2 separate regions of the Homo sapiens genome follow, and region 2 is linked to region 1. The links come from fine-mapping of genetic effects on gene expression. A gene starts in region 1. The other region holds a variant in brackets. All regions are shown on one strand. Distances are from middle to middle. Region 1 holds the start of ZFP36L1 (ZFP36 ring finger protein like 1). Region 2 overlaps LOC105370547 (a long non-coding RNA gene).

Region 1 (5,371 bases):
AACTCGGGAGCGAGCGGGCTAGGCCAGTCGCAGCCTTGCGGAGCCCGCGCCCCCGGGGAGAGGGGGAGGGGAGGGCCTCCGGGAGTTGGAAAAGCCGAGGAAATTCGAGGAATCAGCTTTCTTTGGAAAAATCCACTTTGTAGCCATTCTGGGGCGCCTGATGGTGCTCCTGGCCGGTCCCGCAGCCTTGGAGGGAAAGCGGCGCCGCCCGAAGCAGGGGCATAGCCGGTGCCCCGCGGGGACAGGCCCTGGGCCGGGAAGGGGGCCCCGCCCGCTCCCAGTCCCCTTCCCCTTTGCTTTTTTCCAGCCCCTCCTCCGGTCCCCCCAGCTGAGCTTCGCGAACCCTCGGGAGTTAAAGACCAGCCGGCCTCTTTTTTGGGGGGGGTGGGGGGTGGGGGAGCGGGAATGGGTGGAGGCCGGGGGAATAAAAAACCGAAATAGCTTCACATCAGAACTCAGACTAACCTTGTGGTTTCAACGCGCACTCTGCTCTGTCCTGAAATCTGGAACTCATTACCTCATCACCAAGAAACTGCACGAAATCTCTCCCCCACCGCCCCAACACCCACTTGGGAAAGGAACGAGCAAACATCCCTCTAAGAAAGAAACCTACACTTGAATGATTTAAATTAAGGTGGATGGAAGTTATTTCCCTTTCTGGCGCTTGCCAGATTTCAAGAAAAGCTGAAAAATGGGAGCGGGGGAGGGAAGCAACAGACGGCTGGAGGGCAGCAGCAGAACAAGCGAGGGGCAGCAGCCGAGTTAAAGTGGGGGCCATCCATTTCGGGCAGAGGAGACAAATGAAAGCCGACCCCGCTGGGATCACGTAGGTTCGTGGCTGCAGCAAAAGTTGGGTTTCACAAAGTTGAAAAACAGCCGGTTTCTCAAACAATTGTGATTTGGAAGGTTTCGCTGGGTTTGCCCAGATGTTTACGAATAAATAAGAAATGCAGTTTTAAAAAAAAGTGTGTGTTGGGGGTGGTGAGAATGCGCTCTCTTCGGCCCGCCCCGTCCTTTCCAAAGAAACGTGCTCATAATGGGGTGACCTAATTACATCGCAATGGAACTCAATCTTAGCCACTCCGCAGCACCGGGTTTCATAACAGACTCGGCGGCCTCGAGTGCTGGGAAGAAACGTGCGAGGGCCGAGGGGGGCGGCGGAGCCCGCGTGGAAATCGGAAAGAAGCGCAGCCCTGCGACTTCCGCCTGGGTCATCACGCCAGCAGTCGGGCCAAGGCGCAGGGGGCGGGTGGGGGACTCGTTAACTTTTTATTTGGGTGGGCGGCATCCAAACCTAACAGTATATATTTTATCATTTTCAAGGGAGTCATGCTCCATTGCGGGCCCTTCGGTTTCGTGGCTCCCATGTCCCCCTCTCCACCTCCCGCCAAAACGGCGCAGCGTGACAAGCCATATGTTCCACTCCGGTGGGGGCGAGAGAGAAGCAACAATAAGTTAAAAGTGCCGCCTCCCTCCACCTCTTTACCTTCATTCTTACCAAAGTAACCTTTTTTCATTGTTCTAGAGTCTTGAGGTGTGTGTGGGGAGGATGGAGGAGGAGGGAGGGTTGTGGCGCCGCCCAGAATTCGGAGCGCGCGTGGAAAGTAGTGAGTTGCTCGGTGGGCTTTTTCTGGGAGGAAGGGGCATTCAGGAAGGATTAGGGTTTTCTTGACTAAAAAGTTTAAAGATTGGATGCGTGAAAAGAAACGGCACGCCTAGGCCTGGTAAAACAAACAATCGTCCCGGGTTGTGGTCTTTTTTTGCGGCGCCCCCCACCCGCCCACACCCGGAGAGCGCCGGCTGCAAAGCGAGCGCGAGTGTCGACGCGTGCGGCGCACTAAATTGTGCCGCGCTCGCCCCCGCCAGACCATGTCCTCCTGGGGAAAAAGTTTCCCTAGTCCCCCCAGCAGCGCGCCCCACCCTACGCCCCGCTGGAAAAAAAACAGCAACATAAAATCCTAGGCTTGAACATTCTGTGCGTCCCAAATTTCTAATGTCCTCGGCCTGCCCGGTTTGCCGAAGGGAGCCGAGTGTCGAAGAGAAGTCGGGAAAAGGTAAGTTGTGCAGACACTTGGGGAAGTTTCAAGGAGACCGCCAGCTCAAGATGGAAACCGCGGCCCGGGCGCTAAGGACGGGCTTCAGCTCCCGCTGGCAAAAAGAGAAAGTCGAGCCCGCCTTCCTGCCCAACAAAAAACAACAACATGACAACAAGAACCCCGGAGGGAGTGGAATGAGTGACGTCACAGCCGCGCTCTGAGGCTGACAAAGGAGGGGGCGCGCCCCTCCCGCTCTGCGCCCGCGCGGCCCCGGAGAGGGGGCGCCTGAAGCGCCGGGTAGGGAAGTCAGCCGACTTGAAACTTTTCCTCTTAAAGAAAAAAAAAAAAAAGTTGTGCGCGGCTCACAGTGGGGTTTTTTTTTTCCGCCTTCTTTTCTCGTCTCCCCTCCCCCTTCTTCCTTTTGAAAGTTTCTTCTCCTCCCCCTGCCCCCCCTCCCCGCCTGACCGCATGGCTGATTCAACTCCAGTGTCAATCAACTTCTTTTTCCTCCTCTTCCTCATTTAAATAAGTTTAAAGCTCCTCCTCCCCCCGGCCCACCAAATCTGAACTTTATAAATTGGGCTTTGCGCGCCCCAGCCCGGAGTCAGAAAGGCGAGGGGCGCCGGGAACTGGCGTGTGGGACTCCAGACAGGAGAGGCTGCGCCTTCCCCGCACCGGGACCTTCGCGACACACCAGATCCTCGCCCCTGGCTCGCGCGAACGCACAGGATGACCACCACCCTCGTGTCTGCCACCATCTTCGACTTGAGCGAAGTTTTATGCAAGGTAAAGGGGGGCGGAGCATTTGCTTTTCAAAAAGTCTTTTTCTTTTGCCTTAAGAAAGAACCCCCAAAAGTTTGGGTCTTGGAAGGCAATGGGGAAAGTGGTGCAGCGAGATGATTCTTTTCTCCTCCGGCATTTCTCCCAAGTTTGAAGGAATTTGGCCCCGTCCTTCCCACCCTTTGAGTTTCAACAGTTGCTGGCGGGGATTACATGTGAATCTGGAGGCCAGGGTTTTGAGGGGCGAAGTTTGCCTGGCAGGGCAGCCCGGGGGCTTCGGGGGGAGGGCTGGGATTGGGACAAGTTTTGGGCGATCCTGTTTTACGTAACGTGCTGCTGGATCCCAGGTTTGCTGGTCTGATCGGGTTCCCAGTCTGCGCCCTAGGTCTGTCCAGCGGCATTACCCACCCGTGGGGTTGGGAGTGGGAGGTCCCTCGGGGAAGTGAGTCTCGGGACAATGTTTTCCTCCACTCTTTGGGGGGAGCTGGGGATATGCGAGGAAGAAAGGCCAAGTTGTGATTCAAAAAGATGTTGCAGAACAAGTTTGCAGTGGGGCTTGAGTCCGCCCTAGCTCCGTTGGGCTTCTTCCCGCGATAGCCGATCGTGCAGCAAACTTTGGGGTGAAAGAGGCATTCAGGTTGACCCGCTTACCTGTGTTGCCGAGGCATTGCGGCTCATCGATTGCGGGCGGGGTTGGGGGGGGAGGTGGCGACAAAATGCTGGCTTGAACTCGAGAGTCCCGCGAGTAAGGATTTAATGGGGGGCTCCTTAAAACATGTTGCTTGTCAGCCAGTGTTGAAAAAGCAAGTTTTAAACTCGGAATGTTCCAGGACTGCGGTTTAAATGTACATAGCAAAAGTCTATGGATGTTGTTAAATTTCTTTCCAACCTCCCCCTCCCAATTTGAAAGGGTGAAGCTGCTGGGCTACTTTTTAATTGCTGAAGTGTTTTGCCTTCTCTTAACACGTCGGGTCATGTTGCTCTGTTTTCCCAGCTTGCTGCTCCTGTTGGTGCAGCTGCCAACGCCCCAGGGCTGCAGGGTTGGGGTGCAGGGACGCCGAGGAGCTGAAGAGTAGCATTTAAAAAGTTTGAATTTTTCAGCTTCCTTCCCTCCCTGCACATTCCCAAACTCCACTTGCCAGCCCGGCTGCCAGCGCTCCCCAACATTTCTTCCTTCTTTTCTCGACTCTCCCGCTCTTTGATCTATTTCTTTCTTTGGCCCCCCTCCCCCCTCACGACTTTTTAAATGAACCTCATTGTTGGGAACCAGCTCTCGACTGGGTTCCTGTAATCCTCTCGGTGGGGTGGTTGCAGTTACAGATTCCCGGTCCCCCCCTGCTGATCCTAAGGGACCAACATTAGAATTTGCACAATGACACCCACATGGGCTGGGAACTAACTCCTAGGTCCCTGACCTGCACCATTTCCAAATCTTGGGTACAATTTGGGCAGGTGACCAGGGTCCTATTGGAACAGAAACCTGCCATTGGTGGCTCTGCCCCCATCCCCACCACCCCCAATCCGCTATTGACTAGGAGGTGGGTAGGGGGGTTGGTGCTTTCCTTTTCCTTTCCATCTGCAGCTTTGCGTTAAAGATTAAACACTGGAGCTCTTATCCAAGCTTGCTCTTGCAGCCAAAAGACTAATTGCAAAGGCATCTTCTCAGTGAAGGGGGCGGGGTGGGCTAGGGCTGAGTGGAAATGGTGAGAGAGATTATTGTAGAAAATATCTCTTCCGGGAACTTAGGGCAAAGAGTTTTATTTTCAGGAATCACATCCCTGTCTCCCCCAACCTCAGACCAGGCCCCCAATCTCCTCCCCACAAGAAAAAGCAAAGGCAGTCTGAAAACCTGTTGCCAAAGGAAGGGAACACTTCTGAAGGAGGAAGTTGAGAGTCTTAGGCCAGGTCTTGAAGGAGGGGGTATCAATTAAGCAGAGACTGATTGGAAGGGGACCTAACGTAGCCTATGATAGACTCCTTTCTGAGGTTTACCTGTTTTTGTCGCGGGCGGTGGCGGGGGCGGGGTGCGGTAATCTAGAGAGGTCTGGGTTGTGTGAGATATTTTGAGTTGAAGAATCTATTTGACTAGTAAAAAAGTTGAACTTTAAAGTGGTAGCTTTGGGGACAGAGGACATGGGGGTTGCATTGCAGGAGTCAGCATGGAGCAGGGTGCTTGTCACACAGTTTGGATCTTGTGGTTTCTTACGCATGGGGCCAAAATAAACCCAGGTGAATGGCCTATGGGAGGGAGAGAGGGAAGGGAGCTTGCTAGAGCCGAGGTAGAGATGAGTTCTTTGAGAAAGAGCGGGCGTTTGTGATTGTGTAGGGGGCTGCCCATAGTGGACATCCTGGTGGATGTCCTCTGTCCTTACCATCCTTTCTCTTCTCTCTCCAGGGTAACAAGATGCTCAACTATAGTGCTCCCAGTGCAGGGGGTTGCCTGCTGGACAGAAAGGCAGTGGGCACCCCTGCTGGTGGGGGCTTCCCTCGGAGGCACTCAGTCACCCTGCCCAGCTCCAAGTTCCACCAGAACCAGCTCCTCAGCAGCCTCAAGG
Region 2 (5,371 bases), 61 kb after region 1:
TCAGCCCTTCTTAGTGATCTTATTATTTCCACTGATTCAGGTTAAGCTTGGCCTACTGTGGGCTTTATTTAGATCATCTTTATTATACCTGTGGGTAGATTTTGCAAGCAGGCCCTAGCACAGGTTCACTTGTGGGTTTCCTTTTAAAAGGTCAGTGTGAAACAGGAAATGTGACTAAGAAAATCTTCTTCCTCCATGAAGCCTCACTTCATTAACTGGAAGAAAAGCTCCTATCCTGTCTCCCCCCAAACTTGCTCATGGCCCAGACACATTTCAAAACAGCACATATTTCCCAAAACACTGACACGTGCATTCTAAGGCTCGTGTGTGCGGTGAGTGGTTCTTTGTCAAGTTCGTTCTGTGAAGGGGCCCTGTCGTCACACCGATCACTGTTCTTCAGATATCTGAGGATGTGCAGGGGCCTGAGGGACCTGGAAACCTGGTGGCTGAGCAATGAGGAGAGTGGAACCCATGGTTGGAACAGTTGGCCATCCTCATGCGGATAGGGGCAGAGCCAGAATGGGAATCAAGGTCTCCTGACTCCCCGGCCACATTAACCCAAGTAAACCCCATGTCTACCTCCTTAGCTTCCGGAGTCCCCTGCATCTTCCTCCTTGTGGGACACAAGCCAGGTACAGTTGCAGGGTGGACATGTGGTTTCCAAACAGGATGCTGGGCAAATTAATCTGGGATTCCTGATTGGGGTTCTTTAGGAGGCAGTAGTGGCTACCCTTTAGATCATCTGGTTTGTGACCTTGTTTCAGTTTTCTCATCTATAAAATAGAAAAATAATAGTACTTATGATGAGGTAAAAATAAATGAATACACATAAAACACTTAGAACAGTCTTGCTGTGTGATCACTCCATAGCATTAGTGATTATTATTCTGGTGGGTTGGTTAGCTTTCCTCCATTCTATTCAGTTCAATGGGGGTTTGGCATCAACCACAGGCTTTGCCGGGGCTGTGAAAATGGCCACATTGAGGCTCCACCTTAACCCTGGCCAGCCTCCCAACAGCCAGCCATTTGTCTTAAGAAGAGCTGAAAGAAATAATCTAATGGCGCAATGCAAAGTCAACACTGATGGGGCTGAGGGGTGTCTTTTCGGACAAGACGTGCAGTGGGGAGCCCACCTGTGAGTTGGCCTGTTTCACGGCTGCGTGCGGTGCCCACTCCTCACAGACTCTGAGTGAGTGGCAAGGTGGGCCCGGAGTCAATTCTGGCTTGGCAATGGATACTGTTACTGAGGGCATGGGTTGAGGCACAGGAGCTTGGGGCTCCAGATGCTTGGAGTAAATGTGAAAAGGGAGTGTGGGATGATGTGAGTGGGAGCTGTGGATGGGTTCAAGCGTGCTGAGTCCTGGCTTGACTCACCCTTCCAGCTTCTGCTGTAACTGTCAGTGCCTTTGTCTGCATGCTGGGAAATCCCTGAGTGCTGGGTTAAACCCCAACCCTAAAAGGCACGTAGACACTTCTCCTGAGCTTTGAGTTGCTTCATTCTGCCCAGCAGCTTCCTGAAAATGTAGTCTTGCCACACCAGAGGAAGGATAGACCCATAGCTGTGGGGGACCCTGTGTCAGCAGGATTTACTACCGGGTGAGCTGGGGCTGCAACAGCACGTGTGAGCAACTTAACAGGGCTGATGGTTTTTCAACAAATTTTTAAAAATTAAAAAAAATTTTAAATTTTTGTCGGGACATAGTAGGTGTGTGTATTTATGGGGCATGAGAGATATTTTGATACACGCATACAATGTGTAGTAATTGCATCAGGGTAAATGGGGTATCCATCACTTAAAGCTTTTATCCTTTGTGTTACAGACAATCCAATTATACTCTTTTCGTTATTTTTAAATGTACAATTCAATCATTATTGACTATAGTCACCTTGTTGTGCTATCAAATATCAGATCTTATTCATTCTTTTCGCTCTTGTCTCCCAGGCTGGAGTGCAGTGGTTTGATCTTGGCTCACTGCAACCTCCGCCTCCCGGGTTCAGGAGATTCTCCTGCCTCAGCCTCCCAAGTAGCTGGAATTACAGGCGTGCACCATCATGCCTGGCTAATTTTTTTGTATATTTAGTAGAGATGGGGTTTCACCATGTTGGCCAGGCTGGTCTCAAACTCCTGACCTCAGGTGATCCGCCTGCCTCGGCCCCCCAAAATGCTGGGATTACAGGCGTGAGCCACTGTGCCTGGCCAAGATCTTATTCATTCTTTCTAACAATTTTTTTTGTAGTCATTAACAAGGCTGAAGTTTTAATGCAACTTACTTTTATTGCACATGCCATGCATTATGCACCAATCTGTGTTCTTCCAATGCTAC[C/T]GGGAACCTCTTACCTTTGTATCAGTTCATCGTTGTCCTCTTCTCCAACTGCCTGTGTACCTGGGTCAGGGGTCCTCTTTTATCGAGTGGAACAAATGTGCCCAGGTACAGAGAAATGCTTTGTGCTATTGTCCACCAGGCAGGGGCATTTTCTTTTCTCAAATATTCTTGGTAAATAGACGAGCAGTCTTTACTTGAACGCACTGGGTGTCATATGCCACAGCCCTAACTTGAATGTGCTGGCTTGCTGCAAGTGGGTGATTCCTTAGAAATTTGCTCTGTTCCTAGACGGGATCAAAATGGTCCTTAGATTCTTAATGGGTCCCTATCTGGAATCCATTTGATCTTAAAATAAAATGGCCGTGGAAGAAATTTTTCATTAATTCCTAGCTGATTTGCAATGAAATTAAATTTCTGAGTATAAGGAATATTTTTTACGGAGTAAACTTATAAGTGGGGTTGCTGGGTGTTTCCCATTGATTAGCCTAGTGTTTAAAAGTATAATGTCTTTATTTTCTGGTTTCTTACTTTTTTGAGTTCCCTCACTTTTCTTCTAGAGTTCATTATGCAGGTCTGGAAAACAACAACCACCACCACCAGCAGGAGAAAAGCAGGGGTTAGTTTGGGGGGGGTTGAAATGGGAAAAATAGACATTTCCAGCTCCCAACATCTTATTTCCTGAATATCTTCGGAGCCCAAGAAAGTGGCTCTGAGCTGCCTTTGCAGTCTTGAAGCTGCACTTGCGTTCCCACCAGCCCCCGGGCCTCTGGTTGCATCCTGGGGGGCACTTCTGCACTCCCAGCCTCCTGGGTATGGATTGGGGTGAAGATGTTGTGCAGTGAGGGGTGGGAGCCCCACACCCTAATAGAGCCAAGCTGGCCACACTGCCTGTCTTTCCCAATTAGTTCCCCAAAGGGAACAAAGCCTTATTTCTTCCCTCCCTTAGTTCCCAGGCACTGGTTGGGGAAAAACAATCCTTGGCAGCTCAGGGGTTAAAAATAAAACACAGCGAGGGGGAAAACAAGCCGGGCAGCTGCAGCGGCTCCTCAGAGCCCACTCCAGGCTAAATAGAGGCCCCAGCAACTCCTTGGAGACTTGAACCCTGGGCGATGGAATTTTCCCTTGCATGAAGGCTATTGTCCTCTGGAAAGGGCCAGGGCCAGAGGAGGGCCTGGGGAGCACTGATCTCCCCAGCCCACAGCCAGGGAGCTCCTGAGAGCCCAAGGGCTCGGTCCCACCCAGCTGGGTTTGGGTGAAAAGGCAACGGGGGGTGCAGCCCACCCCTCCCCCTTTGGGAAAAAGGGAGGGCTTGGGCTTCCAAAGGCCTGGGTACCAGTTGTTGCCCCACTCCTCAGCCCAACCAGCTAGTCACGGATGGAATAAAAGGCTTGGTTCCCTTGGCAACTGAGGGGACTACAGTTTTTCACAGAGTACAAGATGGGCTTGGGGAGGAAGGGAGGTGAAAGTGAGGGATGGGGGGTGGTTTGCAGGAGGAGGGAAGAAGCGGGGAGGGGCAGCCTGTTTACCAGTGCTGCTTGAGTTTGAGTCTCAAGGGAACCTTTTGTAGGTTCTGGCCTGGGAAATGCAGGATACCCTGAGTGTGGGGGATGCTCTTAACTGCTTCTCAGTTTTGAGTCACCATTGGAAGTCTCTGGTCCATGGTAGAAATGTGATTGTTGTAGGCCTCATGCTAACCTCATGGACAGCTCAGGGGAGTTAAGCAGAGCCTACCTTTATAGGTGACTAGGCCTGGCCCTGTTTTATAACTGGAGACCCCTGGAAGTGTTGATAGATGCTTGAGCCCATAGAGAGCTATTTGTGAAGCAGAGATTAGAATAGCAGGCGCCTGTCTCCTGGGTCTGATCTCGATGGACTAGACAAGGCTATTTTTAATATCAAGCAGGAGAGCTGCTGAAATATAGACAAAGTGCAGAACCTGGGCTGATTTTGTCTCAAGCACAAGACTTTGTGAGAGGAGCTTAAAAATCTATCCATGTACTGAACAGATACATTTAGCCTCAGTGAAAACAAATGATAAGGGACGGGAGACTTTGTCCCAAAACTTTGGGATGAGAGGTCCCCACATGTTGTCACTAGCACGGAGGTGTACAGGAGACTTGGTATAACCCTCTCCGAGGCTTTAGATGGTCAGGGCTGCCCACCTGGCATTGATAGAAACACCTTTTATTGCTGCCATTAAAAGTGTGGCATCTGCCAAATGAAAAGAAAGGAAGCAGAGTGAATATGTTGATATGGTGGCTTAAGAAGATAGAATAGTGTAAACCGACACACTGTTCAAGAGTCTTGAAATGATTTTTTTAAAAAATGGAAAACAGAACCCCAAACCCCTATCTGGTATAGCAGAGAGTTCTTGGAAAGGATGAGAATGGGGTTCATGGCTGCTTTGGTGGAAAGGCTTGCTTGGTTCTTCTGCCTTTGCCGGGGGACCTGGGAGTGGGAAGGGGATGTTGGGGGAGAGGTCACTGTGTTTTCCTGAGAGGGTGGCGAGGGTCATCACCGTGAAGTACTTCCTCATGCACACTGCGGTCAGTTCCTTCAAAGCCTGGCTCCGATGGGTGGGTCTCATCTGAAAGACACAATTTGAGGAAACCTAGAGGGCGGCTCCTAAGATGAGGAAACACCTGGATGGCAGGTCTCTGATAAGGAAACAATCCTGAGATACCACTGCAGCTGCTTTGCATGCATGACCTATGCCCAATCAGATGACCATCTGCTTTAATCATCATAACCAAATAGTAATAATAAAAAGATCAAGGAATCACTTATCACCTAATTAATTTACTTACTGACTGGTGGGTTGGCAGAGAAACAAGTCTGGGCAATGCAGAATAACAAGCTACTTAGAAAATATGCAGAGAGGCTGGGTGCAGTGGCTCACGCCTGTAATCCCAGCACTTTGGGAGGCTAAGGCAGGCGGATCACAAGGTCAGGAGTTCGAGATCAGCGTGACCAACATAGTGAAACGCTGTCTCTACTAAAAATACAAAAAAAAAAAAAAAAAGAAAAATTAGCCGGGTGTGGTGGTG

The links. PIP is the estimated chance that this variant, and not a neighbour inherited with it, causes the effect. A credible set is the group of variants that fine-mapping cannot tell apart.
Region 2: its variant is the best candidate, but not a certain one, in a credible set for the expression of ZFP36L1 in whole blood (INTERVAL, PIP 0.71).

The regions. Positions count from the first base shown.
Region 1 is chr14:68,790,333-68,795,703 of GRCh38, reverse strand. It overlaps ZFP36L1 (ZFP36 ring finger protein like 1), which reads left to right and starts at 2,637. Exons shown (of 2, transcript NM_004926.4): 1 at 2,637-2,822; 2 at 5,212-5,371. The coding sequence starts at 2,766. RefSeq lists enhancers at 650-809, 472-1,016, 5,104-5,371 and silencers at 2,190-2,389, 2,410-2,479.
Region 2 is chr14:68,729,348-68,734,718 of GRCh38, reverse strand. It overlaps LOC105370547 (a long non-coding RNA gene), which reads right to left. Exons shown (of 4, transcript XR_007064227.1): 2 at 2,339-4,911; 3 at 580-773. Among named protein-coding and RNA genes, the nearest start is that of RAD51B-AS1, 47 kb to the right of the region's middle. RefSeq lists an enhancer at 3,430-3,983. The variant C/T (reference allele first, on the strand shown) is at 2,325.